Regions from separate parts of the Homo sapiens genome. Here region 2 is linked to region 1. The links come from fine-mapping of genetic effects on gene expression. A gene starts in region 1. The other region holds a variant in brackets. All regions are shown on one strand. Distances are from middle to middle.

Region 1 (14,740 bases):
GAGAATAGATGAAAAGTCTTGCCAACTTATTTAAAAGGCTAGGCTGGGCACGGTGGCTCACACCTGTAATCCCAGCACTTTGGGAGGCTGAGGCAGGCGGATCACAAGGTCAGGAGATCAAGACCATCCTGGCTAACACGGTGAAACCCCGTCTCTACTTAAAAAAAAAAAAAAAAATTAGCCGGGCGTCGTGGCGGGTTCCTGTAGTCCCAGCTACTCAGGACACTGAGGCAGGAGAATGGCGTGAACCCAGGAGGTGGAGCTTGCAGTGAGCGGAGATCGTGCCACTGCACTCCAGCCTGGGCGACAGAGCAAGACTCCGTCTCAAATAAATAAATAAAAGGCTAGAAAGCCATAATTCCCAATCTAGATAAAAATGAATATATACAAATAAAATTATAGGACAATTCACTCATAATCAGAGGTGCAAATTTTAAAGAAATTCACAGCGAATTAAGAGAAACAGGGTTGTGATTAGGGTGACGTATGTGAAGCACTTGCTTTGGGCAAAATATTCAGGAGGTTCCAAAATAGTTATTAAGATAAATATTTTTCAATTAGTAGCTCCTATAAAAGGAAAATAATTTAAAAGAAAAAATATTTTAAAAGGTAAATATTTTAATACACTACCTTAAAGAGTCAAAACTCATGCAAAAAAACTATGGTGAACAAAATATAAAATTTTAAATGAAGACAGCATCAGTATCACTGATTGGTTTTCTTGCCTCAGCTCCAATATGGCTTGACATGGCACTGTTACTATCTGTCTTTGTTTAAAATTTCAGTATGTTGTTTATCATTGATTTTTTCTGGCATTGATTTTGAGTTTTTAAAATATTGCATTCAAATACCATTTGTTGTGATGGCTGAGTGTTCTGACCCCTGTTAAGCCTCCCTCAGCTCTCTCCCCTTGCCCGGGCCCTGGCCCTGAAAGATAATTCATCTTGACAAGTAAGGCTCCTCTGAGGAGCACAGGGACGGTTGAACATCAGAGATCCTATCATGACCTTGGGCACCACATTCATAGCCTAAAGGAAGGGCAGCGTGAGATTTTCTCAACAGATGCGGAAAAGCTCATTTTTCTTAAAGAGAAACACTGTTAGGATGAAAACTCTGGAACATAAAGGAAACAAGAAAACTTCCTTAAGTGGACAAAGGTGATCCACTAATAACTTAGATTATTTCATGGATAAAATTTAGACATGGGCCAGGTGTGGAGGCTCAGCACTTTGGGAGGCAGAGGCGGGAGGCAGAGGCAGGAGGATCCCTTGAGCCCAAGAGTTTGAGACTAGCCTGGGCAATATAGCAAGACCCTGCCTTGTGAAAAAAAAATTGGACATATACCTTTACGACTGAAAGCAAGACAACAGGATTCTTACTGCCCTGCTAATGTTCAACAGGACTGGAATCTTTGGCCAATACCAAAAAAATAATAAAGGAAAAGTATAAATATACATGGAAGACACAGAACTGTCATTGTCTGTAAATGAAATATTCAGAATAACCAACTAAATCAACCCACTATTAGAATAAATATAGGAGTCCATAAAGGTTGTTGGATGTATGTCCAACTTAAAAAATAGTATTTCTCGTATTCATAATAACCAACTGGAAAATAGAATACAGGATATCATTCATAAGAGCATGAAATACACTAAGGCATCTGAGTTAAGCTAATGAAAATGATTAGGAACTGTATGAGGCCTGGCGCGGTGGTGCACACCTGTTATCCCAGCTCTTTGGCAGGCCAAGGTGGGAGGATTGCTTGAGGCCAAGAGTTTGAGACGTCATCTCTACATAGTGAGACTTCATCTCTACAAAAATTTCAAAAGCTAGCTGGGCATGGTGGCACGCGCCTGTAGTCTCAGCTATGAGGCTGCAGTGAGCCAAGATTGTACGGCTGCACTCCAGCCTAGGCAAGAGTGAGACGCTATCTCTAAAAAAAATAAGTAAGAAAGAACTGGCCAGGCGTGGTGGCTCATTCCTATAATCTCAGCACTTTGGGAGGCCAAGGCGGGGAGATCACTCAAGGCCAGGAGTTGGAGACCAGCCTGGCCAACATGGCAAAACCCCATCTCTACTAAACAAACAAACAAACCACAAAAATAGGCTGGGTGTGGTGGCTCACACCTGGATCCCAACAGTTTGGGAGGCCGAGGTGGGCGGATCTGAGATCAGGAGTTCGAGACCAGCCTGGCCAACATGGTGAAATCCCGTCTCTACCGAAAATACAAAAATTAGCCAGGCTTGGTGTTGCATGCCTGTAATCCCAGCTACTCAGGAGGCTGAGCGATGAGAATCACTTGAACCCGGGAGGCGGAGGCTACTAGGGAAGGTGAGAGGCAGGAGAATTGCTTGACCCCGGGAGGCGGAGGTTGCAGCGAGCCGAGATCGCGCCACTGCACCCCAGCCTCACCAACAGAGCGAGACTCTATATCAAAAAAGAGAAAAACACAAAAATTAGCTGGGCATGGTAGCATATGCCTGTAGTCCCAGCTACTTGAAAGGCTGAGGCATGAGAATCGCTTGAGCTTGGGAGGCGGAGGCTGCAGTGAGCTGAGATCGCACCACTGCATTCCAGCCTGGGCAACAGAGTAAGACCCTCTCTTAAAAAAAAAAAAAACTGTATGGAGAAAAATAGTAACGTCTACTGAAGATCATAAAGAAAGAAAAATGAAAGCTTGTCTGTGTATCATATACTATATAAAGATGTCAGTTCTCTCTAAATTAATCTACAAACCCAATGGAAAGCCAATCAAAATACCACTAGGGTTTTTTTTTAGAAATTCAGTAAAGTTGTAAAATTTATTGCTTTAAAGTAAAAATAAGGACTTTTTTTTTCCCTTTGGTCGCCCAGGCTGGAGTGCAATGGCACGATCTCAACTCACTGCAACCTTCGCCTCCCGGGTTCAAGCAATTCCCCTGCCTCAGCCTCCCAAGTAGCTGGGATTACAGGCGCCTGCCACCACGTCCAGCTAATTTTTGTATTTTTAGTAGAGACGGGGTTTTACCATGTTGGCCAGGCTGGTCTCGATTTTGAGATGGAGTTTCCCTCTTGTTGCCCAGGCTGGAGTGCAATGGCACGATCTCCGCTAACTACAACCTCCGCCTCCTGGTTTCAAGCGATTCTCCTGCCTCAGCCTCCTGGGTAGCTGGAATTACAAGCGCCTGCCACCACGCCCAGCTAATTTTTTGTATTTTTAGTAGAGATGGGGTTTCACCATGTTGGCCAGGCTGGTCTCGAACTCCTGACCTCAGGTGACCCGCCTGCCTCAGCCTCTCAAAGTGCTGGGATTATAGATGTGAGCCACCATGCCCAGCCAAAATAAGGACTCTTTATGTTGCAGAGTCAGGCAAATAAATTAGAAAAAAAGATAAAACTGCCTTCACAAATGGCATGATTGTCTTTGCAGAAAACTAATACAATGTATGAAAAAACTACTGGAACAAATAAATGCGTTTAGCCAGGCTGCAGGATACAAAATCAACACACAAAAATCTGTTGTATTTCTATATACTGGCGACAAACACTGATAAATTAAAAATTTTAAACAACACCCTTTACAACCACATCAAGGTTATGCAATACTTGGAGGCAATTCTGAAAAGATGTGCAAGACCCTTACATTGAACACTACAAAATGGGGCTGAGAAAATTTATTTTTTAATTTATTTTTAATTTTTTAGAGACAGAGTCCCACCATGTGGCTCAGGCTGGTCTTGAACTCCTGAGCTCAAGTGATCCTCCCACCTCAACCTCCTAAGTAGCTGGGACTACAGGCGCACCACCAGCCCAGCTTTTTATATTTGTTGTAGAGATGGGGTTTCGCCACGTTACTGAGGCTGGTTTCCAACTCCTGGGCTCAAGCAATCCACCCTCCTCGGCCTCCCAAAGTGCTGGGATTACATAGCCATGAGCCTAGCTGAGAGAATTTAAAGACCCAAATAAACAGAGAGAAATACTATGTTCACTAGACAGAAGTTACCAGTTCTCCCTCAACTGACCTACAGATTCAACACAATTCCACTCAAAATGCCAGAAGCCTTTTTTTTTTTTTGTAGAAATTGACAAACGATTCTAAAATTTATATGGAAATGCAGGCTGGGCACTGTGGCTCACCTGTAATCCCAGCACTTTGGAAGGCTGAGGTGGGTGGATCACTTGCGGTCAGGAGTTCTAGACCAGCCTGGCCAACAGGGTGAAACCCCGTCTCTACTGAAAATACAAAAATTAGCCAGGTTTGGTGGTGCATGCCTGTATTCCCAGCTACTTGCAAGGCTGAGCCATGAGAATTACTTGAACGCAGGAGGTAGAGGCTGAAGCAAGCTGAGATTGCATCACTGCACTCCAGCTTGGGCAACAGAGCCAGACCTTGCCTCAAAAAAAAAAAAAAAAAAAAAAAAAAAAAAGGAAATACAGAGGACCTAAAATAACCCAAATAACTTTAAAAAAAAAAAAGTCAGAGAATTAACACTACCTGATTTCAACACTTATTTTAGAAAGCTATAGTAACCAAGACAGTCTGGTATTGGCATAAAGATAGATGAGTAAGTCAGGATAGAAAAGTCCAGAAAGGATCGTCATTTCGACAAATAATATGGGAACAACTGGATACCATGTTTTAAAATGAAAAAAACTTTGGCTTTCTAATTTTGCAATCTGATAGGTGTAATGAGGCATCTTGTTATTTTAATTTGGGTTTGTCAGGTTGCTGATGAATTTAAGCATCTCTCCATGTGCTTCTCCGGTATTTGGGTTTCTCCTACGAATTGCTTTTTTTTTTTTTTTTTTTTTTGAGACAGAGTCTCGCTCTGTGGCCCACGCCTGAGTTCAGTGGTGTGATTTCCGCTCCCTCCAACCTCTGCCTCCTGGGTTCAAGCGATTCTCCTGCCTCAGCCTCCTGAGTAGCTGGGATGACAGGCATGAACCACCACGCCCCACTGTTTTCGTATTTTTAGTAGAAACGGGGTTTCACTATGATGGCCAGGCTGTGAATTGCCTATTCTTATCTTCTGCACATTTGTCTATTGTCGGTCTTTTTCTCGTCGATTTACAAGCATTCCTTTTTTCATTCTGAATATTAATCCATTGCTTTCTGATGCTGTAACTAAGTCCTCCTAGTGGTTTGTCTTCTTGGTTAAGCCAGATGTTAACTTGGATTTTTCCTGCATAAAACTGAAGACTCAAGATGCATCAAGCACTGTATACAGAAAAGTGCTGCGTATCCTACAGAAAGCTACAGACAGTTGGGGGTCAGAATCATTCGGATTGTTTCAAGTTTGGGGCTATTATAAATAAAGCTGCTATAAACGTTTGCACACAGGTTTCTGTGAACAAAAATTTTCATTTCAACCAACTAATGTTTACGGTTCAATCATGATTTCACAACTTGAAGTAACTTTCACTCTTCTCATACTAAATTTGATATGTCGTCCACTGTTAAACTATTTCTTACCCTCAGATTATAATTATTAAACTTTTTTTTTTTTTTTTGAGAGGGAGTTTTGCTCTTGTGGCCCAGGCTGGAGTGCAATGGCAAAATCTCGGCTCACCGCAGACTCCGCCTCCCGGGTTCAAGCCATTCTCCTGCCTCAGCCTCCCGAGTAGCTGGGCTTACAGGCAAGCCATGCGCCACCAAGCCCGGCTAGTTTTGTATTTTTAGTAGAGACGAGGTTTCTCCATGCTGGCCAGGCTGGTCTCGAACTCCCGACCTCAGGTGATCCGCCCGCCTTGGCCTCCCAAAGTGCTGGGATTACAGGCGTGAGCCACCGTGACCGGCCTAATCATTAAACTTCTTTCAGCACTAGCCCCACTGATGTCACAACTTCACCCATTAGTCAATAACTTGTCTTTGCTGAATTCGACACTTTTGAATCATTTAAAAAATATTCTCTTAAATTTTATGTGCTATTTGCAATGTAACGGTTGTCGACATGACAGTTTTAAGTTTAATCTTTATCATCAACATTTTCTCTATCACTTTCTTCAGTTTAAGCAATCAACAAAACCACCGCTCCAGCACTGATTTGTAGCATTTGCGGGTTTCCCCCGTGTGACTTCCGCAGGACTGCCAAGTTCAAGCCGCCAGGGCCAGGGCACTGCTAGCAGCTGGGCTGAGCCCTGTTCTCCCGGCGTTCCCACCGCCCAGTGGCAATAGCTGTGAACGGCGGCAGGAGCATGGCAGTGGAACAATAAGGAAAAGATCTTTTAAAAAAAAGATATAATACAGAAGCCAAGCAAGGCGGCCCCGACCTGTAACCCCAGCACTCTGGGAGGCAGAGGCGGGCGGGCGGATCGCTTGAGCCCAGGAGTTTGAGACCAGCCTGGCCAACATAGGAAGGCCTCGTCAAAAAGACAAAAGGGTAAAACGAATTTAATAAAATGAAGTTTAACTTTTACTCATGTTTGTATCTAATGACAAGCTTTTAAAACTGAAAAGTTCACTACTGGCTCCTGCCTGGCGGCTCCAGCCCGACTGGGGGCCGGGGCCTCCCTGCACTGTGGGGTCACGAGTGCCCCTGGACAGCTCCCGAGCGCCCTCCGACCCGCATGCTCAGCGCAGCCCCGTCGGCGGCGCGCCACGGGCAGAGCGGGCTCAGCGGGGGACGGAAGCTCAGCGCTGCGACCGGGATCCCGCAGGCTCGCTCCGCAGGGCCGCGGCTCCTCTCCGTGCAGGTGCTGGGCCCGCGGGGGCGGGGCGTCCACACGGTCCGCGCCGAGACCCAAGCGGGGAAAAAGCGAAGAGCGGACAGCGGGGCAGGTGCCACAGGGAGCCTCCGCCCCACCGCGCGAGCAGCAAGTCTGCGGCGCTTGACACCTGCACTGCGAATGCCAGGCCGCAGCCCGGGCTCCCAAGACGCGAATACGCGCGCCTGCTCGTGACGTCATTTTTTGCGGTCTTCCCGAGAGCCAGCAGAGGGCGCCGCCATGATGTTTTACGGAAGCCGATAGTCCTTGCTCAGCGGCACCCCGTCCTTCCGGCTCTCGGCTTTGCCACAAAGCTTCCCGAAGACGCGGCCGCTACCCGGAGACGCGGTCGCCACCCAGAAGCGCTCTCCCGGGAAGCCCCGCTCGTGGGACCGCGCCACCTGCGCCGCCTCTGCGGCCCGCAGCCCGACGGGCGCCGCCATGTTGGGGTCCTAGCGAGGGACGCGTAGGTGTCTTCATAAGATGCCGGGGCAGCGGCGCGCGCTTTCCCCCAAGATGGCGTCCATGCGGGAGAGCGACACGGGCCTGTGGCTGCACAACAAGCTGGGGGCCACGGACGAGCTGTGGGCGCCGCCCAGCATCGCGTCCCTGCTCACGGCCGCGGTCATCGACAACATCCGTCTCTGCTTCCATGGCCTCTCGTCGGCAGTGAAGCTCAAGTTGCTACTCGGGACGCTGCACCTCCCGCGCCGCACGGTGGACGAGGTAAGGCAGGCGTGGCGCCCCGCGGCCCCCAGATTCCCAACCTTCCCACCTCCGACCCGCACACCCAACTCCGGACCCTCCTCGCTCCCTCCCCCAACCTTCCCATCCCCCTTCAGACTGTTAACCCCCCCGGCCCGCCCTCACGCCCCCTCCTCGCTCCTCCGAATACCTCCCTCCAGTCCTCACCTCCCCCTGGGTCCTCATCCCCCGCCTCGATCCTCATCTCCCACCTCGGTTCTCATCCCCACCGTGGGTCTTCAGGACCCCCCGCCCCTCCTCGCCCCCTGGGAATCCCCCACTAGGGTCCTCACCTCCCTACTTTTCGTCCTCACCCCTACCCAAGTTTTCACCTCCCCTGGGATCCTCAATCTCCTCCCCGCCGGGCCCCGGGTTCTCGCTACGACCCCCAGGTCCTCACTCCCCTCCCTGGGCCCCCGGGTACTCATCCCCACCCGCCCCCGCCTCCCCCGCCTTCGGTCCTCACCACCCTAATCCCCCACCGTGCCGAAGCGACCGACTCTTGGAGCGGGGGTGCGCCGGCCCCAGCGGGGTCTCCCATCGGGGTTTCCCGTCGGGGACGCAGCCCTGGTGACCTGGGCGAGGGCGGGGATCCCGAGAGAAACCCCCGCGTGAGGAAGGGGCGGCCTGGGCTCGGTAGCTCCAGTGTCCGCTGACTGGATTTTCTTGTTCTCACCTCGCAAAGACCCCGGCCGTCCGGAGCGCTCTGTGTCCGTTTTACTCTTTTCTACACGCCGTTTTGCGTCATTCCAATAAGTGGGTGTGTGAGGTTTGTTTTCTTTTTTCCTAAACTTTATATTGTATCGCTTTCCGTGCGAAATAAACCGAGTAGTTTTGCAGACTATTGAAGCCCCATGGTTGTTTAAACGTTCCTGGCTACTGATGTATTATTAGCTATTATAGGTTGTAATTGCTTTTGATTGAGATATGACATGTATGGAAAAGTGCATTTTTGTTCAGTTTAACGAATAATAATAGCATCGCGAGCCACTCCTGTGATCCTTACACAGGTGGAGAAGTAGAACCATGCCTGTTCCTTGGAAGCCTCCCACTGGTAATCACGGCCTTCTTCCTTTCCCCTTCCTCATTTTGGAAAGGTAATCATTTCTGTGCCATCTCCCCGGTGTGAGCAATTATTTATGCACCCCTAAATGGCACAGCTTGGTTGCCGGATTTGGAGTTAGTGTGATGGTATCATAGTGTATTTTGTGTGTGGCGTGCATGTGTCTTTTTGGTCGACGCCGTGACAGTTTCATCCACGTTGCAGCTGACTGCAGTTTAATTTTCACTGCTGCGTGGTATTCCTGTCTGTGAGCACGAGGCACTTTATCCATTCTGCCACAGTGACACGCTTAGCTTTTGTGCTCTTGTAAATCATCCCGTTACTACATTACGGTCATATGTTCAGGTGTTTGGAATCTTGGATTTCTCTAGGGTATAACATCTAGGAGTGGAATTGTGAGGATCATAGGATCATGCCAAATTATTTTTCAGAGTGTTTTGTTTTTGTGTTTGTGTTTTGTTTGAGACAGGGTCTGGCGCTGTCAACCAGGCTGGAGTGCAGTGGCACCATCGTGACTCACTGCAGCCTTGACCTCCTCACCTCAGATCTTCCCATCTCAGCCTCCTGAGTAGCTGGGACTACAGGGTTTCACCATGCTGCCCAGGCTGGTCTTGAACTCCTGACCTCAAGCAATCTGCTTGCCTCAGCCTCCTGAAGGGCTGGGATTACAGGTGTGAGCCATGGCACTCGGCCTGCTGTTTGGTTTTCTGCTTTGAGAATTGTATATTCAAATCTGCTTTTAAATTCTCTTTTTTCCCATTGTTTTGTAAGAGTGTCTTTTTTATTATTTATTATAAATGCTAGATATCAGTCCTTTTTCAGTTACAAATATCTCCCAGTTGTCCTTTGACTTTGACTTAGCTTCCTGGAATCCTTTTTTTTTTTTTTTTTTTTTTTTTTGAGACAGCGTCTCACTCTGTCACCCAGGCTAGAGTCTAGTGGTATAATCATAGCTCACTTTAACCTTGAACTCCTGGGCTTAAGCAGTCCTCCCTCCTAAACCTCTGTAGTAGCTGGGACTGATGCGCTGCCACCACGCCTGGCTAATTTTTGTGCATGTGTATGGAGATGGGGGTCTTACTGTATTGCCCAGGCTGGTCTTGAACTCCTAGCCTCAAGTGATCCTCCTGCCTTGGCCTCCCATAGTGTTGGGATTACAGGTGTGATCTGTGCGCCCAGCCCTTTTCCTGGAATCATGGATGAATAGAAGCTCCTAGTTTTAACATAGATGGTGTATTCATCCGCCCACTATCATTGGTGCCTATTGTGTCTCCCCGAGGGACATGCCCGGAACACTCCCTGGGTTATCTTGGCGTAGCTGTACAGTTTTACCTTTCGCACTTGAATCTTCAGTCTGCGTGGAATTGATGATTGTGTGAAGCAGGGAGTCTAATTTTCCACATGGATGTGCAATTAGTCCAGCACCCAACGTTGATTGAAATGACTGTCCTTTTCCATTGATCTGCACTGCAGCTTCTGCTGTGGATGTGTTTCTGGGCTGTGCTCTGTTCTTTTGGTCATTTACATATCGATGTGCTAATAACCCACTAAGTCGGTTCTTGTCACTTTATTTATAAGCCTTGTTAGCGGACGGAGCAAACCCTCCCACTGTATCTTTCTCCGGGATCATCTATGGCTATTCTTGTCCCTTCACACTTCCACATGTATCTTATATACTTACTTCTTAAACACGTAGAGCCTGCCTGCTGGGATTTTAAGGCTGAGCTGAACTTGCAGTTCATTCTGGGGTGCTGTCCTCTTTATATTGCATCCTATAATTTGTGGGTGTGGGCTTATCTATTTAGATGTTCTTTGTGATCTCTGTAGGGGTCTTCCATCTCATATATTACCACCTATTTCATATTTTTCCATGCCGTTGTAAATGGTATCTGTTAAAGTCTTAGTTTTTACTTGTTGCTGGTATATAGAAATGCGTTGATTTTTGTTTTTGTTTGTTTGTTTGTTTGTTTGTTTTTTAGACGGAGATCTCACTCTCTCACCCAGGCTGGAGAGCAGTGGCGCGATCTCAGCTCACTGCAACCTCCTCCTCCTGAGCTCAGGTGATTCTCCTACCTTAGCTTCCCGAGTAACTGGGATTACAGGCATGCACCACCACACCTGGCTAATTTTTGTATTTTTAGTAGAGATGGGGTTTCACCATGTTGGCCAGGCTGCTCTCGAACTCCTGACCTCAGGTGAGCCACTATGCCCAGCCTGATTTTTGGATAATGAATTTGTGACTAGTATCTGTGCTAAAGTTTTGCTAGTTGCAAAATTTTTTTTTTCTATAGAATCTCCTTGATTTTTCTGTGCACTTCATATTATTTTTCTTTCTCCAATTACCTTTTGTTTTTTTTCTCGTCTCACTGGACTGGCTAGGACCCTCCAGCTCATTGTCTTACCTCCGATCACACAGGGAGAACTCGGAATGTTTTGCCAGTGAGCATTATGTTTCCTGTTGTCTTTAATAAATACCCTTTATCTAGTTAAGGAAATTCTCTTCTTAGAAGACTTGTAAAAAAAAATCTTTTAATCATGAATTTTTTTAAAATAGCTTTATTGGCTGGGTGCAGTAGCTCACACCTGTAATCCCAGCACTTTGGGAGGCCGAGGCGGGCGGATCACGAGGCCAGGAGATCGAGACCATCCTGGCTAACATGGTGAAACCCCGTCTCTAAAGAAAAAATACAAAAAAATTAGCCGGGCATGGTGGCAGGCGCCTGTAGTCCCAGCTACTAGGGAGGCTGAAGCAGAAGAATGCCGTGAACCCAGGAGGCAGAGCTTGCAGTGAGCTGAGATCGCGCCACTGCACTCCAGCCTGGGCGACAGCAAGACTCTGTCTCCAAAAAAAAAAAAAAAGCTTTATTAAAATATAATGTATAGCTGGGTGCAGTAGCTCATGCCTGTAATCTCAGCACTTTGGGAGGCCAAGATGGGCGGATTGCTTGAACCCAGGCATTCGAGATCAGCCTGAGCAATATGGTGAAACCCTGTCTCCATAAAAAATATAAAAATTAGCCAGGGGTGGCGGCACATGGCTGTGGTCCCAGCTACTTGGGAGGCTGTGGCGAGAGGATCACTTGAGCCTGGGAGGTTGAGGATGCGGCGAGCCATGATTGCATCACTGCACTCTAGCCTGGCCGACAGAATGAGACCCTGTCTCAAAAGAAAAAAGATATTATTTTATGTACCATATAATTATGCCAGGTAGTTCACCATTTAAAATGTACACTTCAGTAGTTTTTAGTATATTTACAGGTTTGATGGTCATGCTAGTCAATTTTCAAACATTTTCATCATCCCCCAAATAAATCCTACACTCATTAGCATTTGCCCAGTCCTCTTCCTCCCCACTCCTAGGTGACTAGTAATCTACTTTTTGCTTCTATAGATTTGTCTATTCAGGATATTTTATATAAATAGAATCATACATCTGGTCTTTTGTGCCTGACTTCTTTCACTTAATGTAATGTTTTCTTTTTTCTTCTTCTTCTTTTTTTTTCTTTTTTTTGAAACAGAGTCTTGCCCTGTCGCCAGGCTGGAGTGCAGTGGCGCGATCTCGGCTCACCACAACCTGCGCCTCCCAGGTTCAAGGGATTCTCCTGCCTCAGCCTCCCGAGTAGCTGGGACTAGAGACACGCGCCACCATGCCCAGCTAATTAGCTAATTTTTGTATTTTTAGTGGAGACGGGGTTTCACCGTGTTGGCCAGGATGGTCTCCATCTCTTGACCTTGTGATCCACCTGCCTTGGCCTCCCAAAGTGCTGGGATTACAGGCATGAGCCACTGCTCCCGGCCTTTATTTCTTCTTTAAAAAAAAAAAAAAAAAAAGGATGCATATGCAGAACATGCAGATTTGTTACATAGGTATACGTGTGCCATGGTTTGCTGCACCTATTGACCCGTCCTTTAAGTTCCCTCCCCTCACTCCCACCCCTATTAGGCCCTGGTGTGTGTTGTTCCCCTCTCTGTGTGCATGTGTTCTCAGTGTTCAACTACCTGCCACTTATGAGTGAGAACATGCAATGTTTGGTTTTCTGTTCCTTTGTTAGTTTGCTGAGGATGATGGCTTCCAGCTTCATCCATGTCCCTGCAAAGGACAGGATCTCATTCCTTTTTATGGCTGCGTAGTATTCCATGGTGTATATGTATCACATTTTCTTTATCCAGTCCATCATTGATGGGCATTTGGGTTGGTTCCATGTCCTTGCTATTCTAAGCAGTGCTGCAGTAAACATACCTGTACGTGTGTCTTTATAGCAGAATGATTTATATTCCTTTGGGTATATATCCAGTAACAGGATTGCTGGGTCAAATGGTATTTCTGGTGTTAGATCCTTGAGGAATCGCCATGCTGTCTTCCACAATGGTTGAACTAATTTACACTCCCAGCAAAAGTGTAAAAGCCTTCCTATTTCTCCACAGCCTCGCTAGCATCTATTGTTTCCTGACTTTTTAGTAATCACCCTTCTGACTGGCGTGAGATGGTATCTCATTGTGGTTTTGATTTGCATTTCTCTGATGATCAGTGACGTAGAGCTTTTCTTCATGTTTATTGGCCTCATAAATGTCTTCTTTTGAGAGGTATCTGTTCACCTCCTTTGCCCACTTTTTGATGGGGTTGTTTTTCTCTTACAAATATGTTTAAGTTCCTTGTAAATGCTGGATATTAGCCCTTTGTCAGATGAGTAGATTGCAAAAATTTTCTCCCATTCTGTAGGTTGCCTCTTCACTCTGATGATAGTTTCTTTTGCTGAGCAGAAGCTCTTTAGTTTAATTAGATCCCATTTGTCAATTTTGGCTTTTGTTGCTATTGCTTTTGGCATTTTTGTCATGAAGTTGTTGGCCGTGACTGTGTCCTGAATGGTATTGCCTAGGTTTTCTTCTAGGATTTTTATGGTTTTGGGTTTTACATTTAAGTTTTTAATGCATCTTGAGTTAATTTTTGTATGAGGTGTAAGGAAGAGGTCCAGTTTCAGTTTTCTACATATGGCTAGCCAGTTTTCCCAGCACCATTTACTGAATAGAAGATCCTTTCCCCATCGCTTGTTTTTGTCAGGTTTGTCAAAGATCAGATGCTGGTAGATGTGTGGTGTTATTTCTGAGGTCCCTGTTCTTCTCCATTGGTCTGTAGGTCTGTTGTGGTACCAGTACCATGCTGTTTTGGTTACTGTAGCCTTGTAAGTGTAGTTTGAAGTCAGGTAGCGTGATGCCTCCAGCTTTGTTCTTTTTGCTTAGGATTGTCTTGGCTATATGGGATCTTCTTTGATTCCATATGAAATTTAAAATAGTTTTTTCTAATTCTGTGAAGAATGTCAATGGTAGTTTGTTGGGAATAGCATTGAATCTGTAAGTTACTTTGAGCAGTATGGCCATTTTCATGATACTGATTCTTCCTATCCACGAGGATGGAATGCTTTTCCATTTGTTTGTGTACTCTCTTATTTTCTGTTTTTTCTTTTTTTTTCTGAGATGGAGTCTCGCTTTGTCGCCCAGGCTGGAGTGCAGTGGCGCGATCTTGGCTCATTGCAAGCTCCGCCTCCCGGGTTCACGCCATTCTCCTGCGTCAGCCTCCCTAGTAGCTGGGACTACAGGCGCCCGCCACCATGCCTGGCTAATTTTTTGTATTTTTAGTAGAGACAGGGTTTCACCGTGTTAGCCAGGATGGTCTCGATCTCCTGACCTCATGATCCGTCCGCCTCGGCCTCCCAAAGTGCTAGGATTACAGGCATGAGCCACCGTGCCTGGCCTTTTTTTTTTTCTTTTGAGACAGAGTCTCGCTCTGTCGGCCAGGCTGGAGTGCAGTGGCACGATCTCGGCTCACTGCAACCTCCGCCTCCCTTGCTCAAGCAGTTCTCCTGCCTCAGCCTCCCGAGTAGCTGGGATTACAGGCTTGTGCCACCACGCCCGGCTAATTTGTGTATTTTTAGTAGAGATGGGGTTTAACCACGTTGGCCAGGCTGGTCTCAAACTCCTGACCTCAGGTAATCTGCCTGCCTCAGCCTCCCAAAGTGCTGGGATTACAGGCGTGAGCCACTGCACCCGGCCCCTCTCTTATTTTCTTCAACAGTGGTTTGTAGTTCTCTTTGAAGAGGTCCTTCACATCCCTTGTTAGCTGTATTCCTAGGTATTTTATTCTCTAGTGATTTTGAATGGGAGTTCATTCATGATTTGGCTCTCTGCTTGCCTATTAAAATCACATTGATTTTGTATTCTCGGACTTTGCTGAAGTTGCTTATCAGTTC
Region 2 (14,740 bases), 22 kb after region 1:
TATACCCGGCCCTATTCCTCTGAAAAGCTTAGTAAACAGCAGTTCTTTATACCAGGGAAGAGGAAGAGACATTTTAATGATGTGATAGTTTATTCAGTGAAGAGTACAGAAATGAGTTAGGGCCCCTGCTCTCTAAGAATTACAGACCTTACAAGGTAGGCCTGGGCCGGGCGTGGTGGTGGCGCCTGGATTCCCAGCACTGTGGGAGCATGAGGCAGGAGAATCGCTGGACCTGGGAAGGCGGAGGTTGCAGTGAGCCGAGATCCTGCCATTGCACTCCAGCCCGGGCGACGACAACAGCGAGACTCTGTCTCAAAAAAAAAAAAAAAAAAAGGCCCAGGGGAGCTCGTTCCCACCTTCCACCAGCAAAAGGCACCTTCCATGAAGCTGGAAGGGGCCCCCACCAGGCGGGGAATCCACCAGCGCCTTAATTGATCTTGGATTCCCACCTCCAGAACCGTGAGAAGTAAATTTCTGTTGTGTGTAAGCCAAGCATTTTCTTTTTTCTTTCTTTCTTTTCTTTTTCTTTCTTTCTTTCTTTTTTTTTTTTGAGATGGAGTTTCGCTCTTGTTGCCCAGGTTGGAGTGCAATGGTGCGATCTCAGCTCACGCAACCTCCGCCTCCTGGGTTCAAGCGATTCCCCTGCCTCAGCCTCCCAAGTAGCTGGGATTACAGGAATGCGCTACCACGCCCGGCTAATTTTGTATTTTTAGTAGAGACAGGGTTTCCCCATGTGGGTCAGTCTGGTCCCCAACTCCTGACCTCGTGAGCCGCCCGCCTCTGCCGGCCGAAGTGCGGGGTCTACAGACATGAGCTACCGCGCCCGGGAAAGCCAAGCGTTTTCCTACAAGAAGCCCCAGTAGAGCGAGCCAGGCTTCAACATGCGCGTTCTGGAGAGAAAACATTGACTCCACAACAGTGGTCCTTTTTGTTTTAAATTAACATCCCCGACTTTTTTTATCCTTACCATTTTTATAAAATGCCGCGCGCTTGCCTCTTGGCAGGCGTAGGGTTTCCCTGGGGCTGCTGTGGAGAGGCCGCACTGGCTGGAAACAGCCGGGCTGTGCGGCTGCCAGAGGCAGCGTGTGCGCAGCGCTTCCTGCAGCCACGTAGCATCTTCTGCCGCATCGCGCACTCAGCTCGGGCGGGCGTCGGGAGTGAGGGCCCGGGGCGCAGGGTCAGCGGCCGGGGCGACACCCTCCCTGGTTGCCCAAGGAACAGAAGGGGCTGGGCCACGCGGGGGGTTCTTGACTCCTGAGGGCAGCTGGGTGTCCTGCAGGGCAGATGCAGAGGGGCTTGGCAGCAGGCAGGCTCCCCTGGCACGACCTCTGATCTCTGCCCTTCGAGCCAACTTCCCTCAGGGCAGGAAGCCCATGAGGACAGTGAGGGAAGCGCTGGAAGGTCCTCCCACTCAGAGGCCACCAGGAGGCGGCGCTCGCGGGGACGTGATGGCCGCAGCCCTCGTAGGACGGGTCTCTGGCGCCTGACGCAGGGAGTGGGTGTCAGGAAGGCCTGGGGCTGGGGTTTCAGCCCCGGCGTCTGGACAGGGCAGGGCGCTGTTGTTCACCCCCAGCGCCAGCCAGCCCAGCTGTCTCACACTGTGAGCAGCCCAGTGGGCGCATGGCAGAGGCACAGGCACGCCATGGCCTGGCTCTCTGCGTTTCCTCGTGGGAGGGGGTTTATGTGGCCGAAGCAGGCCCTGGTGTGGATGGATCTGGCCTCCCAGGTATTGAGGGAGCACGGGGTGCGCCTGCTTCCTCCACGCACGTCGCCCATGGCCTCCCCAAGGCCCTGGCCTCACTCCAGATCCCGGGGCCACCTCCAGGCTCCACGAGCGCCAACTCCCAGCGCCGTCCAGACCCAGAGGCAGCCGTCCCTGCCTAGATGGTGACTAGGCACCAGCTCAGCTGTCACGGGTGCTGCCCCAGGTCCCAGGCCCCACCCCCTGCTGCCCAGGCACACACCCCCGCGGCAGGTGACTCCACCCTGCTCCTGCGCTCTGCTGTGCCGGGCACCTGCCTGCTCTACGCCCCTCATCCCCAGGATTTCCCACCCGCAGGCTTTCTGCGGGAGCAGTGGTGGCCCCGGCTTCTCACCCTTCAGGTTTTCTTGCATCTGCGCACCGGTGGAAGAGTAGGCCCAGTGGACTGGGTGCTGCTGGGAGGTGGGAGGCTGCTGGGAGGGCACCGGATGCCGGGGCCTTGCAACCTGGCAGAGGCTGTGCTGCTCAGGGAAGCAAGGTGGCCCTGGGGTGAGGCGGGGGGCTCAGAGGAAGGGGAGCCCTCAGGAGGAAGTGTTGGGGGCAACTGCCAGAGAGCCCGGCCACTGCCCAGTGCCCATCCGGAAGCTCAGCAGGGAGTGGGCTTGGAAGTGGGCAGGGGCATGGTGGCGCCGGCAGCATCCTATTTTGCAGATGAAGGGCGCCCTAATGGAGATCATCCAGCTCGCCAGCCTCGACTCGGACCCCTGGGTGCTCATGGTCGCCGACATCTTGAAGTCCTTTCCGGACACAGGCTCGCTTAACCTGGAGCTGGAGGAGCAGAATCCCAACGTTCAGGATATTTTGGGAGAACTTAGAGAAAAGGGTATGTTGTGCTGCTTTAATTCATGTTGGGTGGAGGGAAATGGATCTTTCTTGAAAAATTTTTTTCTGAAATGAATTTGATTTTTAGACCTTTACGTTTTTCCGTGTGTCCTGGTCCCTAGAATATTAACTGTATATGCACCATCCTCCCCCGTAAGCTGCTGCCTGGCTTTTGCCATCTTTGAAAACAAACTCCAAACAGCCCACAGGCCCCATCCTCACTGCTGCGGTGTCAGTGGGAGGCTGTGTCACGCCACTCGCCGTCTCTCTCTGGTCGGCTCCGTGAGGGTAGGGGCTCTGCCCATTCAGGTGGTATCTGTAGATCCTAGGTTCTAGGGCCCAGAGCATTCCCTGGCCCAGAGTACATGCTCAGAAATGCATGTTGAAAATATCAACGATTTAGTTGTTTAAATGTGAACTGAAAGTCACTTAGAAAATATTCACAAGGCTGGGCTCCGTGGCTCACTCCTGTAACCCCAGCACTTTGGGAGGCTGAGATGGCCAGATTGCTTGAGCCCAGGAGTTCGAGACCAGCCTGGGAAACATAGCAAGAACCCATTTGTACAAAAAATAAAAATTAGGTGGGCGTGATGGCACATGCCTGTCCTCCCAGGTACTTGGGAGGCTGAGTCAGGAGGATCACTTGAGCCTGGGAGGCCAAGGCTGCAGTGAGCCATGATCGCGCCACTGCACTCCAGCCTGGGTAACAGGGTGAGAATGTATCTCTTAAAAGAAACAACTATTTGTAGATGGATTTGAAGAACATGTCTTGATGGGATGCTTGATGCTTGTGCTTTTCTGAGTTTCTCTCCTGCTTTGGACAATTGGAACTGGCTCCTCAGAGCCCAAACGTTGTGCCCCAGCTCCTTCAAGGGCAGCACCCAGAGAGACAGGGTTGTGGGATGGAGACATCGAGGCTGCACACTCCTGCAGGGGCCCTGCTGGCCACCCCCCTGCAAGTGGCACCTCTCCCCACCTGTGAGGTCACACACACCACACAGATGCCTCTGGAGCAGTGGTCTGGACAGGTCCACCCCACCCCACCCGTTCGTGTCTCAGGAGTGTCCCGCGGGCAGGAAGGCTGAGGCCGGTGAACTCTCATGTGCCTGCCTGTGCTTTTTCTCCAGGTGGGGCACGTAGCCAGTTCAGGTGGGAGGTCGCCTGTCCCTCGTGGGGCAGTTTCTGGGATCTGAACCGTGGGTGAGCACACAGGCTGAGGAAATGGATGTGGGCAGTTTGGATGAGGGCCAGGGTTCCAGGAGAGACCACCAGCCTGGCTACCCTCGGGGACGGGAAGAGAGAAGCCACAGATCGGGGGTCCTTCTTACGTGGGGGTGGGATCTGTTAACATTTCATGTTCTACAAGTGTCTGGAGCCCTCCAGGAATCACTGTATCTATGTCCGCCTGTGGTTCTTGGTGTCCGCGGTGCCAGAGGTTTCCAGTTTACAGCCCTCTCAAGGCATGCCCGCCTCTCAGGCATTCCTGTTCTGCAAATGCTCCTGGGTGTTCTGCTGGAGCCGTGGGGAGTCAGTCTCGAGGACCTCAGGGGACAGCCGAAGCTCCCATGACCTAACCCTAACTGAGGAGGGTGTGGGGCTGGGCAGCCGCCAGCTCCTCTCAGCCGGGAGGTCTGCGGCCTGGGCGCCCCTAACTTCATGTGGTTCTTACCGGCAGTGGGTGAGTGTGAAGCGTCTGCCATGCTGCCACTGGAGTGCCAGTACTTGAACAAAAACGCCCTGACGACCCTCGCGGGACCCCTCACTCCCCCGGTGAAGCATTTTCAGTTAAAGCGGAAACCCAAGAGCGCCACGCTGCGGGCGGAGCTGCTGCAGAAGTGTGAGTGGCCGCGGCCGCCATCGGGCATTGTCTTTGTAGTTTCCAGTCATAGGTTTCTTAGGTTCTAAGGTACCAAGACTGCCCCTTCAAGGTGGCGTTCTGGGCCAGGCATGGTGGCTCACACCTGTTGGGAGGCTGGGGCAGGTGGGTCGTTTGAGCCCAGGAGTTTGAGACCAGCCAAGAAACCCCATCTCTACCAAAAGTACCAAAACATTAGCCGGGCATGGTGGTGCGTGCCTGTGCTCCCAGCTACTCGGAAGGCTGAGGTAGGAGGATCACCTGAGCCCACGAGGTTGAGGCTGCAGTGAGCTGTGATCACACCACTACACTCCAGCCTGGGAGAGAGTGAGACCCTGTCTCAAGAAAAAGAAGATAAAGTTCTGCATAAAGTTTTTTGTTAGAAGTTTATCACTATATTAAACTTTATGTTCTGAAAACATGCTTTAAAAACTTCAGAATTTAGGCTGGGCATGGTGGCTCACACCTGTAAACCCAGCACTTTGGGAGGCTGAGGCCAGCAGATCACCTGAGGTCAGGAGATCGAGACCAGCCTGGCCCACATGGTGAAACCCCGTCTCTACTAAAAATACAAAAATTAGCTGGCTGTGGTGGTGCATGCCTGTAATCCCAGTTGCTTGGGAGGCTGAGGCAAGAGAATCACTTGAACCTGGGAGGCGGAGGTTGCAGTGAGCCAAGATTGCCCCACTGCACTCCAGCCTGGGCAACAAGAGCGAAACAACATCTCAAAAAAAAAAAAAAAACCCACCAACTTCAGAATTTTAGGTGAAGGCATCTCTAATCTCTGTGACCAAATGAACTCTGTGCCAGCTGAGTCACGCTGTTGGGCACGGTGGGTGCCAGGGTGAATGGCTGGAGGGGCACGTTCCTTACTCTCACGTTGCTGCCTTCTGGAGTGGCGGGTGATCTCAATTCCACTTGAAAGATATTTAATCATTTCAGTTAACGTTTTCCCAAAGCACGACAAAGATTTCAATAACATCGTTTTATTTTGAATGGTTATGGAATTAATATTTATAATGTACATCAATACCCCGTTTCCAGAGAATCCAAATAAAAGGCTGACAGCAGCTGTGCATGGATCTTGGCTGGAACGGGCAGCAGCCAGGGCCCAGCGCTGTCCGGGAGGCTCCGTGCAGCCCCGGGCCCACTGGGTAGCCCAGGAAGGACTCTGCTGGCCCCTTGGGCCCCACCCCCTTTGGAGGCCAGCAGTGGCCACAGGGTCTGCTTTGGGCACTCGGTGTCCCCTGACCCTTCAGCCACACTGAACCAAGTCAGGAATATCTCTTCGTTTGTTTCTTCCTCATATTTTTGTATCTAGACCGTGCCTGCTGACCCTCAGCGAGGACGGTGCTACCACTGGGCCAGGGGGAGGCCCGGGTCGATGGAGAGGGCTCATGAGGTCCCTCAGCTCCTCCTCGGCTGCCTCCCCCCTGCCATGGGGTCCTGGGAGGTGCAGCCACAGCCACCCAGCTCCCGAAACTTGCTCACCTGAGTGAGTTTCTGACTCGTTGTAAAGTGCGAGCTGGTGTCAGGCCCGGCTCGGAACAGCTGCTCATTTAGAGAGAATGCAGCGTTCACGGCTCAGGCCGTCGGATGAATCCACTTGACAGAGATGTTTTTACAAGGGCCAAGGGCTCTCGCTCTGAGGATCCCTGACATATGTGACCTCTTCCTTCCAGCCACGGAGACCGCCCAGCAGTTGAAGCGGAGCGCCGGGGTGCCCTTCCACGCCAAGGGCCGGGGGCTGCTGCGGAAGATGGACACCACCAGTAAGGCCCCCACCCTGGTGCCGTGAGCCTTGCTTTTGGGGCAGAGCTAAGGGCTTCACCTGGAGACCCGCTCCCTGTTGGGGAGGTGGTGCCTGTGAATGGTCTTCAGGCAGCAGTGTTGGGAGCCCGTGGGAAAGCGAAGGCACTGGGGCAATTTCACCGGCTTCTCCCCTTGGGGAGCTCCCTGGGAGGATGTGTGGGCACGGAGACAGGAGGGCCGGGATCTGAGGACAGTGCTGGGCACGGAGACAGGAAGGCCGGGATCTGAGGACACCGCTGGGCATGGAGACAGGAAGGCCGGGATCTGAGGACAGTGCTGGCCCCTGCTCCTCTGCTGTTGGCACCGGTGGCTCTCGGCCTTCCCAGCTCGGGCTTTCGGCCCCAAGTGCTGCTCTTGGGTTCCGAGTGTCCCTGGGCGGCTCCGCGGGGAGGACGTGACCGTGCTCAGCTGCCCGTGGGGCTGTGCCCCCCGCACCCCTCCATCTGCCCTTCCTGATTTGTGCTCTCAGGGCTGGGCGTGAGCTTAAGCAGGATGCACCCTGATCACAGGAAGACGGCGTGCCCCTGGGAACCATGGCAGGGCATACTCACCCCAGAGGGTGCTGGATAGTGACCTGGGGGCCAGAGGGCAGGACGGGTGTCGTCCTGTGCTGAGACAGCTGGGTAAACTTGCAGATGGGTGGGGCTGAAAGGGCAGCCTTACAGGCGCTCTCCATGCAGCTCCCAGACCAGCCTGGCTTAGTTTATTTGGGCTCCCATAATCCCACAGTGTTCACATGGGACCTAGTAGAAGGCATCTTGGGTCTGCTGACTATTGTCGCTGTGTGGGGGGCCGTCCCTGGGTCATGTTCCTGCCCACCGCAGCCGAGGTTCCACCTTGCTCTCCTCTACCCCGCCTGGAGCAGACCCTTGTCTTTCCACCCCCACCAGGCATCCCAGGGCCAGGGCTGCACCTGCTGGCCCAGGGAGGGTGGGCCAGCCGTTGAGCAGTGTGTCCAGCCTGGCCCGGTGTGCTGATGGCACCATCCCCCGGGCGTCCTCTCTCCGGGCCTGGCACCATGAGAGCCACGCACGCCTTGGAGGGTGCGTGTGGGCGCTGGTGGGTAACAGCGTAGGTAGGCCTCAGGAGTGTCCTCAGGGGACGGGGAGAAGGCTTGGGAGGGCGGCCCTCAAGCCCAGGCGCCTGGCTTCATGCCCCTGCCGGTGGAGGCACAGGAAGGAGGCAGAGCTCAGCCCCCGCCACACTGGTGAGAGACTCCACCTGGTGAGATCCTGTGGCTGGGCTGGGGTGCCGCTGTCTTTGTTTGGTGTCTTGGCAAAGTGTGAGGTCGTGGCTCCAGGCGTTCCCCTGCTCCTTGAGGTCCGGGATCCTGGGGGTCCTGCCCGCTGCCCGCCAGGGGTTTGGCCCTTCCCCTCTGCGGCGCTAGCCTAGAAGAGGGTGGGACGTTCTGAGCTCGGGGTGGGGGACGTTTGCCGGTCACTGCTGCTGGCGCCCTGACTGTTGCCGTCCTCCAGCCCCACTCAAAGGCATCCCGAAGCAGGCGCCCTTCAGAAGCCCCACGGCGCCCAGCGTCTTCAGCCCCACAGGGAACCGGACCCCCATCCCGCCTTCCAGGACGCTGCTGCGGAAGGAACGAGGTGTGAAGGTAGGCCCGTCCCCCAGCTCCTGTGGCACCCCGGGGCCCGTTGCGCCCTGGTGCCGTCACTAAGGCAGGGCTGTGCTTGTCTTGGCAGCTGCTGGACATCTCTGAGCTGGATATGGTTGGCGCTGGCCGAGAGGCGAAGCGGAGAAGGAAGACTCTCGGTGGGGGTTGGGGCCTGCGTGTCGGCGGCAATGGGGGTCCCTGCGGGCCCTGCCCAGTTGGGGTGGGTTGTGCCCACGCTCGGCGGGCAGGGCTGTGCCCCGTGAGGCTGCTCTCCGTGGGTGGGTGCCTGCTTTTCTCCTCGCTCCTTGGTGGCCTCCCCTGGGAAGCTGTTTGATTCCCTGCCGCTGCCCTGAGCTGACACTGCAGACGCGCCCGGGCACTGGCGAGGACTCCTGTTTTGTCCACAGATGCGGAGGTGGTGGAGAAGCCGGCCAAGGAGGAAACGGTGGTGGAGAACGCCACCCCGGACTACGCAGCCGGCCTGGTGTCCACGCAGGTAGGGCTCGGGGCTGCACCCCATGTCTGGCACCACTGCGGGTGCCCCTTTTGTTCCGATTGTGGCCACTAGTGTGCTCTGTCGGAGAATATATATATGTATGTACATATGTGTGCAGTCTGTATTTATGTATATATACGTATATGTACATGAGAGGCAGTGTGGGCCGTGCCCTGACATGGGCATCTGACTCAGGCTTGGAGCGGGAACCTGCCCCACGCTTGCTGGAGGGGCTGCCAGGGGAGTCCTCCTCAACCCTGTGCCTCAGTGTCCCGTCAGGCAGGGCTGGTGGGACCTAAGCCTTGCACGTGGCCGTGAATGGGTGCAGGACAGGCCTGTGGGGGTGCTGGGTGGTCAGAGGCCTCAGTGTCCCGGAGACCAGGCCCTGCCTGCGGGTGGGAGGCAGCCACGGGGCGCGGCAGGTGCACAGAGGCTGCAGTGGGTCGTCTGAGGCCAGGGCCTGGAGGAGGCCACACTGTGGGGTCACTTCAGGATAATAAGCTCCTTTCTTCCCGCCGCTGCGTGTTCTGTGTTTCTTAACATGAGCATCTTCCTTTATATCAA[C/T]GCTTCGTGGTAAGAAAAAGCATCGCTCCTTCTGTGCTCAAGATGGGCTGTTTGGGCTCCTCAACCCCTCCCCTCTCCTACACAGGAGCGGCTCAGTCCCCAACTCTGCTGGGGCGCCAGGGGCCAGGGGTCCCGTTGTCTAGCCCAGGGAGCTCGGGAGAGTGGCCCCCGCCTTCCTGCTCTAGCTCGGGGGGCCACAGCCTGTGGCAGTGGAGCTCCGGGTCGGGCCATGTGTTAGCACATGCCGGAAGCATGGCCTCTTCTGGAAGGAACCTTAAACTCTGTGTTCCAGAAACTTGGGTCCCTGAACAATGAGCCTGCGCTGCCCTCCACGAGCTACCTTCCCTCCACGCCCAGCGTGGTTCCCGCCTCCTCCTACATCCCCAGCTCCGAGACGCCCCCAGGTGAGTCTGCTGGCCCCAGCCTGGAACCAGCCAAGCTGCCTGCCAGGACATGACCTTGCCCACGGGCGCTGCCAGGGCTGCGGTTCTCACTCCTGCATCTCTGTTGTCCCCCTTCTGCCTCAGCCAGAATCTGCTGGGGGCAGATGCCCCGCTGTTCAGCTTGAGCTCCAAGACATAAACCAGCTGCTTTGCCCCACCCTGCCCGTCCTGGGCACAGACAGGCAGCGGCCCCAGGGGACACGGCAGGAAGGGGATTGGGTTCGAAAGGGTTTTCTGCCAGGTGACCCAGCTCTTGTTGCTGGGTAGGCGGGAGGGGAGCTGAGAGCCATCCCCTCCCAGACGGAGGGCACTGCCAGGCTCACAGCACCTCAGGCCAGGTCCTGGGCCCAAGGGGCTTGAGGATACAGCCTTCCTGTCTTCCCAGCAGTGCCTACGGTATGGGGACCTGCTGCAGGCCAGCAGCTGGCCAGAGTCCAGACATCTTATCTGCGAGTCTGGAAAGGCCTGAGACCACTGGCCTTGTTCCTCTGGCTGGGGCTTCTGGGGCCTGTGCCTTGGCTGGGGGCCACAGGGAGTTCTTGTCAGAGGGTAGCAGGACAGAGAAGGGGAGCTGAGCCTGTCACCTCCAGGAGCACTAGGGTTTGGGAACAGGGTGGGGGTCCAGCCCCCTCACCAGGCCCCGGTCTACTTGCAGCCCCATCTTCCCGGGAAGCCAGCCGCCCACCAGAGGAGCCCAGCGCCCCGAGCCCCACGTTGCCAGCGCAGTTCAAGCAGCGGGCGCCCATGTACAACAGCGGCCTGAGCCCTGCCACACCCACGCCTGCGGCGCCCACCTCGCCTCTGACACCCACCACACCTCCGGCTGTCGCCCCTACCACTCAGACACCCCCGGTTGCCATGGTGGCCCCGCAGACCCAGGCCCCTGCTCAGCAGCAGCCTAAGAAGAACCTGTCCCTCACGGTAGGTGTACACTGGTAGGGCCCACAGGCCACCAGGTAGGTGGTACGGCCCTGGCCACCTCCCCTAGCGTGGGGGTGCCACGGTGCCTGCAGGGGGATGCAGGAGGTGGTCCTGGCGGGGCCCTGGCACCCACACCCCTCTCCCCGCTGTAGAGAGAGCAGATGTTCGCTGCCCAGGAGATGTTCAAGACGGCCAACAAAGTCACGCGGCCCGAGAAGGCCCTCATCCTGGGCTTCATGGCCGGCTCCCGAGGTATGTTCATAAGGCAGGGCCTGGGGGTGCACCGGGCCGGGTTGGGGGCGGGTGCCCCCAGACACCCACCCAGCAGCTCCTGCTCTCTGCAGAGAACCCGTGCCAGGAGCAGGGGGACGTGATCCAGATCAAGCTGAGCGAGCACACGGAGGACCTGCCCAAGGCGGACGGCCAGGGTAGCACAACCATGCTGGTGGACACAGTGTTTGAGATGAACTATGCCACGGGCCAGTGGACGCGCTTCAAGAAGTACAAGCCCATGACCAATGTGTCCTAGAACCACCTGCCTCACAGCTGGCCGTCACTTGTGGGGGTCCACGGGACGATGGCTTTGCCAGCTTAAAGTAACCGGATGGCGGACACCTGGCCCCCGAGGTCCCCCGGCCGCCGCCCTGCTGCTGACCCAGCCTGTTTTAAGTTCTGGATGCATTTCTCTGGGGTATTTGGGGCTTATTTTTAAAATTTTAATATGGGTTCTTTTTTGTGTGATTTAAGACACTTTTTGGACTCAACGTTACATTTTTGAATGTAGTAAGTAAATTAACCAAAAAAGTTACAACTTCCTAATTTTAGTGACAGCTCTGCCTGTTAGACTCTTACTTTTTAAAATCTTTTCTATTTTCCCTCGCTGGGGCAGTGCCCTCCTACCCCCAGGGTTGAGGGGACCAAGGTGGCACGGTGGTACTGGGGGTGCGGCAGGGACACCCGACCACACCAGAGCGTGGGAGACGGTGGGCCTTGTCCCCTGCCTGTGCCTGCCTGGGAGTTTTGTATTCATCTTTTGTATAGTTGTGGACATTTAAGACAGTCTTTGGGTACCTATTTTCATTGTAAAACTATCTGAACCATTAAAGTCGAGCTTTTCTAAAGAAAGCCACCATAGCTGTGTTTGGGGCCAGCTTGTCCTCCCTGCTCCGGGGACCCAGTCCCTCCCTAGGCGGCCATCAGGACGGGGTGGGCCAGGGCTGGGGGCTTCCTAGGACACCCTGGCCCACAGGGTGGGGAACAGGTAGGATCAGCCCTCGGGGTACTCCCTTGACTTACTTGGCTGTGGGCCTGGGGACCACCCGGCTCAGCCGACTGCAGGGCTGGGGGACAGCAGTGCTTCCTTCTCTCTAGACCATTTCACCCTTAATGGGAATTTGGGAAGCAAATTATTTCTGAAAGAAGAAGAAAGCATTTTTCCAAAGTCAGTCAGTTATGCCTGCTATTTCCAGTATTTGTTGTTATACTTCCCAAGGTGGCACTGCCTCTCCCCAGCGGGTCAGGTCAAAGGCAAAATGACACAGTCAGGACAGGGAGCCCCACCCATCGGAGGCATCAGTGCCACACCCGATGCTTTGCAATTCAAAGTAACTGGAAAAAAAATCAAACAATCCCATATAAAATAAGTTAAGAAAAAAGCCTTTAAAATGTTTTTAATACAAAAATACTCATACACAATTTTCCAAACACAGCTTTCCATTTTAAATGCTATTTTCCCCCAACTGGCAAGTCTCAACTCTCTATTTCAGTATATCCCTCCCCCCAAAAAGTGAATTTCAAGTTTTTAAGTCTAACTATCAAACCTGGTGACAGCACCCAGTATTCCTAAAAGGAATCTGACCTTACATTGTATGAAGTTTAGACACCAATAGGCACATTTAAGTTTGTATTTAATTTCTGACGGGGCATTTCACACCTCAACAGGGTATGGTGAGGCTGTGACACCCCGTGGACACAGCATTTTACTCTACTGACTAACAAACAGTCATCAACTACACTCATAGGATCAAGATATTTGGCAACTGACAGTCATTTGCATTAACTTGAATTATAAAACAGGTTTAATTCTGGAAAATAAGGTAGTCCTGGAAGATGGGCACTGCACACGCCGGGGTTTAGATGTCAAGACAGACAAACACTGCGAAGGGGACCCAGCCAGCCATGGACGGGTGTCGCCGGAAGAAAGGCCGGCCTGAGGACGGACAGCTGGGTTCTCACTTCAGGTGCCTGAAGAGTTTCCCCCACAGGTGACCACATTTTAAGCTGCCCATTCGGACACATCCCCCTGTGGGCGCACACGGGTGGGTATGGGTTTAGGTGCAGATGCTGGTTTCGGATGCCAAGGAATCCTGAGGGATTGGGGCGGTTTTTGTGTTTTGCTTCACATTAATGATGGAGGATTGAAGCTGATGTTCAGGAAGTCACCACGTCCTCAGAACAAAGCTGGGCAGGGCCGAGAGCCAGCCACACCCACGGTCACAGCTGGGGGCGTGGTCAGCCCCAGTGGCGAGAAACCCTGCAAGCTCAGGGCCGCTACCCCAAAGCCTGGCTCCACTGAGTTATCAACGGGTATTGTAGAGACATTCAAAGTTAGTGTTACTTGCTCATTAGTTTAACAGTTTTTGGAAAGGGGGAGAAACATATTTAAAATGTTTGCATTATTTCCTTCAGAAAAATCATAAAATTTGGAAGTATTATCAAAGCGATTAAAAATCACAAGATTTCACTACTGTCCAACACAAAAATAAGTTAATATCTGCTCCCCAAAGTGCACTGCAAAGCCGATTCTGCTGTTTTGACGTAAGCATTGGTAGTCCCTTACCTGCCGGAAGGGATCTTTTGGGCAAGTGACAGCGGGGCCCTGGGGCCTTCGACTCTAAGGTGTGTGTGGGGACACTGCCCGGCCTGTCCCTAGAACAACCTTCCAAGTTAGGGCATCATAAGGAGCATAAATCTATGAGCCGATCCAGTATTTTCTTAGGACACTTTGGGAGAAGTTAGAGTCTGAACTGGAAAGCACTACTCCCACCCTGTCTTAACCGGCGAGTGCCCCTCAGAGGCCACGGCCGCGCGAGCAAGTCAGTGGCTACACAGCTCGTTTCCCCTGGGTCCTCTGTGTAGTTAACTTTGCTGGGGACCCTGATGGGAGAAGGGACAGCCACCAGCCAGTGAAACTTCCAGTCAGTGCTCAGGGAGGCGTGGGACCCTGCAGGGCCACACACCCCTGAACCCCACGCTTACAGGTCACAAAACCACGGAGTAGCCACTCTCAGGTCCAAAGACACTGCAGTTTTTACCAAGGCATAAAAGATGCCACAGAAAATTTAACAGGAGCCTCAGCAGCAGTTTTCAAGGGGAGTTCTGTAAACTTCTCTGCAAGATGGATGTGTCCCCCTTAGGTTATTTTAAGAAAAGGCCATAAAAAAGCACCTGCTGCTGAATGTTCTCTCCCTCCCTCCCAGACAAGCAGCCCCTCAGGACACGTGGGCAAAGGCACACATGGTGCCCCCTTCTCAGGGTGCTCCAGACTTCCCAGGGTCAAGGATCCCTCAAAAAAAGAACCAAGTCTTAAAACATATGTAGTACTCAGATAGATAGGTCTCACTCTGTAGAACTGGACCTTTTAAAAACTAAAGTGAAATCTCACAGGAGAGTGGGTGTCATACCTGGCCTAGACCAGTGCCCATAACACACGTACGAGGCACGCACACCTGCCAGGCAGGCCTCCACCCCCAGGACCGCACCTCTCAGTAGGTGCCCTGGCAGAGGGCACATGTGATCAGCAGAGACTGCATCTTCCATCACCAGACCCACAGAGTGCTGAGATGGAAGCCACTCTGGGTGGCAGGAGAGCTAGACTCCGTCTCTCTTTAGACCCACGTGCTGGGGTCCCCGGGGCCTGCAGCGCCCTACGGGGCTCCCTAAGTTGTCACTTCCTGTGCTCTAAGCAGACTGCGGTCTCACGCCCTGCAAAGTCACTCCTTTCGCCATGGAGCTCAGGGCCGCATCAGTAAACACACACTTCAGTCGGTGGTGATTTGTGAAATAGGTTTAGCAAAAATATATTGAGAATAAAAATCAGAAACTGGTAAAGAAAAGCCAAATGAAAAAAATATACAAAGTTATCCCCCAAATGTTGATAAGAACCTAGCGAGTTCAGAAGATAGGCCCAGGTGAGAAGTAGGCCCAACCCGGCCAGGCCTCGAAAGTGCTCCGCGTAAACTACACGTTGAAAGTGGACGTGTTATTGGCATTTCATTCAAATCCATGAGGAGAAAAAACTACGGGAGGAAATCTTACAACACCATTGCTGCCACCACCTGCAGGGCCAGCTTCTCACTAGGATGGAAAAGAAGCGTTTCTGAGGAACAATTCACATTAGTACAAAAAAATGATACAGCCATTTCCAAAGAGCAGAGTAATGATCACAATGGCAGTTTCG

Which allele goes with the higher level. Alleles are on the strand shown, and positions count from the first base shown. SD is a standard deviation of normalised expression in the study named.
For the expression in cerebellum of the gene that starts at base 7,190 in region 1, C is the high allele of the variant in region 2 and T is the other (small effect, 0.21 SD a copy in GTEx).

Evidence for each region. PIP is the estimated chance that this variant, and not a neighbour inherited with it, causes the effect.
Region 2: its variant is fine-mapped to the expression of NELFA in cerebellum (GTEx, PIP above 0.99).

What each region holds. Positions count from the first base shown.
Region 1 is chr4:2,001,424-2,016,163 of GRCh38, reverse strand. NELFA (negative elongation factor complex member A) reads left to right here and starts at 7,190. Exons shown (of 11, transcript NM_005663.5): 1 at 7,190-7,414. The coding sequence starts at 7,205. LOC124900839 reads left to right here. Exons shown (of 4, transcript XM_047416543.1): 4 at 5,991-7,158. The coding sequence starts at 6,403. The coding sequence ends at 7,158. RefSeq lists a silencer at 6,440-6,819 and enhancers at 6,880-7,399, 7,007-7,507.
Region 2 is chr4:1,979,389-1,994,128 of GRCh38, reverse strand. It overlaps NSD2 (nuclear receptor binding SET domain protein 2), which reads right to left. Exons shown (of 22, transcript NM_001042424.3): 22 at 11,937-14,740. NELFA (negative elongation factor complex member A) reads left to right here. Exons shown (of 11, transcript NM_005663.5): 2 at 2,414-2,585; 3 at 4,260-4,421; 4 at 6,122-6,211; 5 at 7,727-7,857; 6 at 7,946-8,015; 7 at 8,265-8,353; 8 at 9,210-9,321; 9 at 10,016-10,281; 10 at 10,434-10,533; 11 at 10,626-11,406. The coding sequence ends at 10,810. It overlaps MIR943 (microRNA 943), which reads left to right and starts at 7,652; the gene lies at 7,652-7,745. RefSeq lists an enhancer at 1,482-2,321. The variant C/T (reference allele first, on the strand shown) is at 8,918.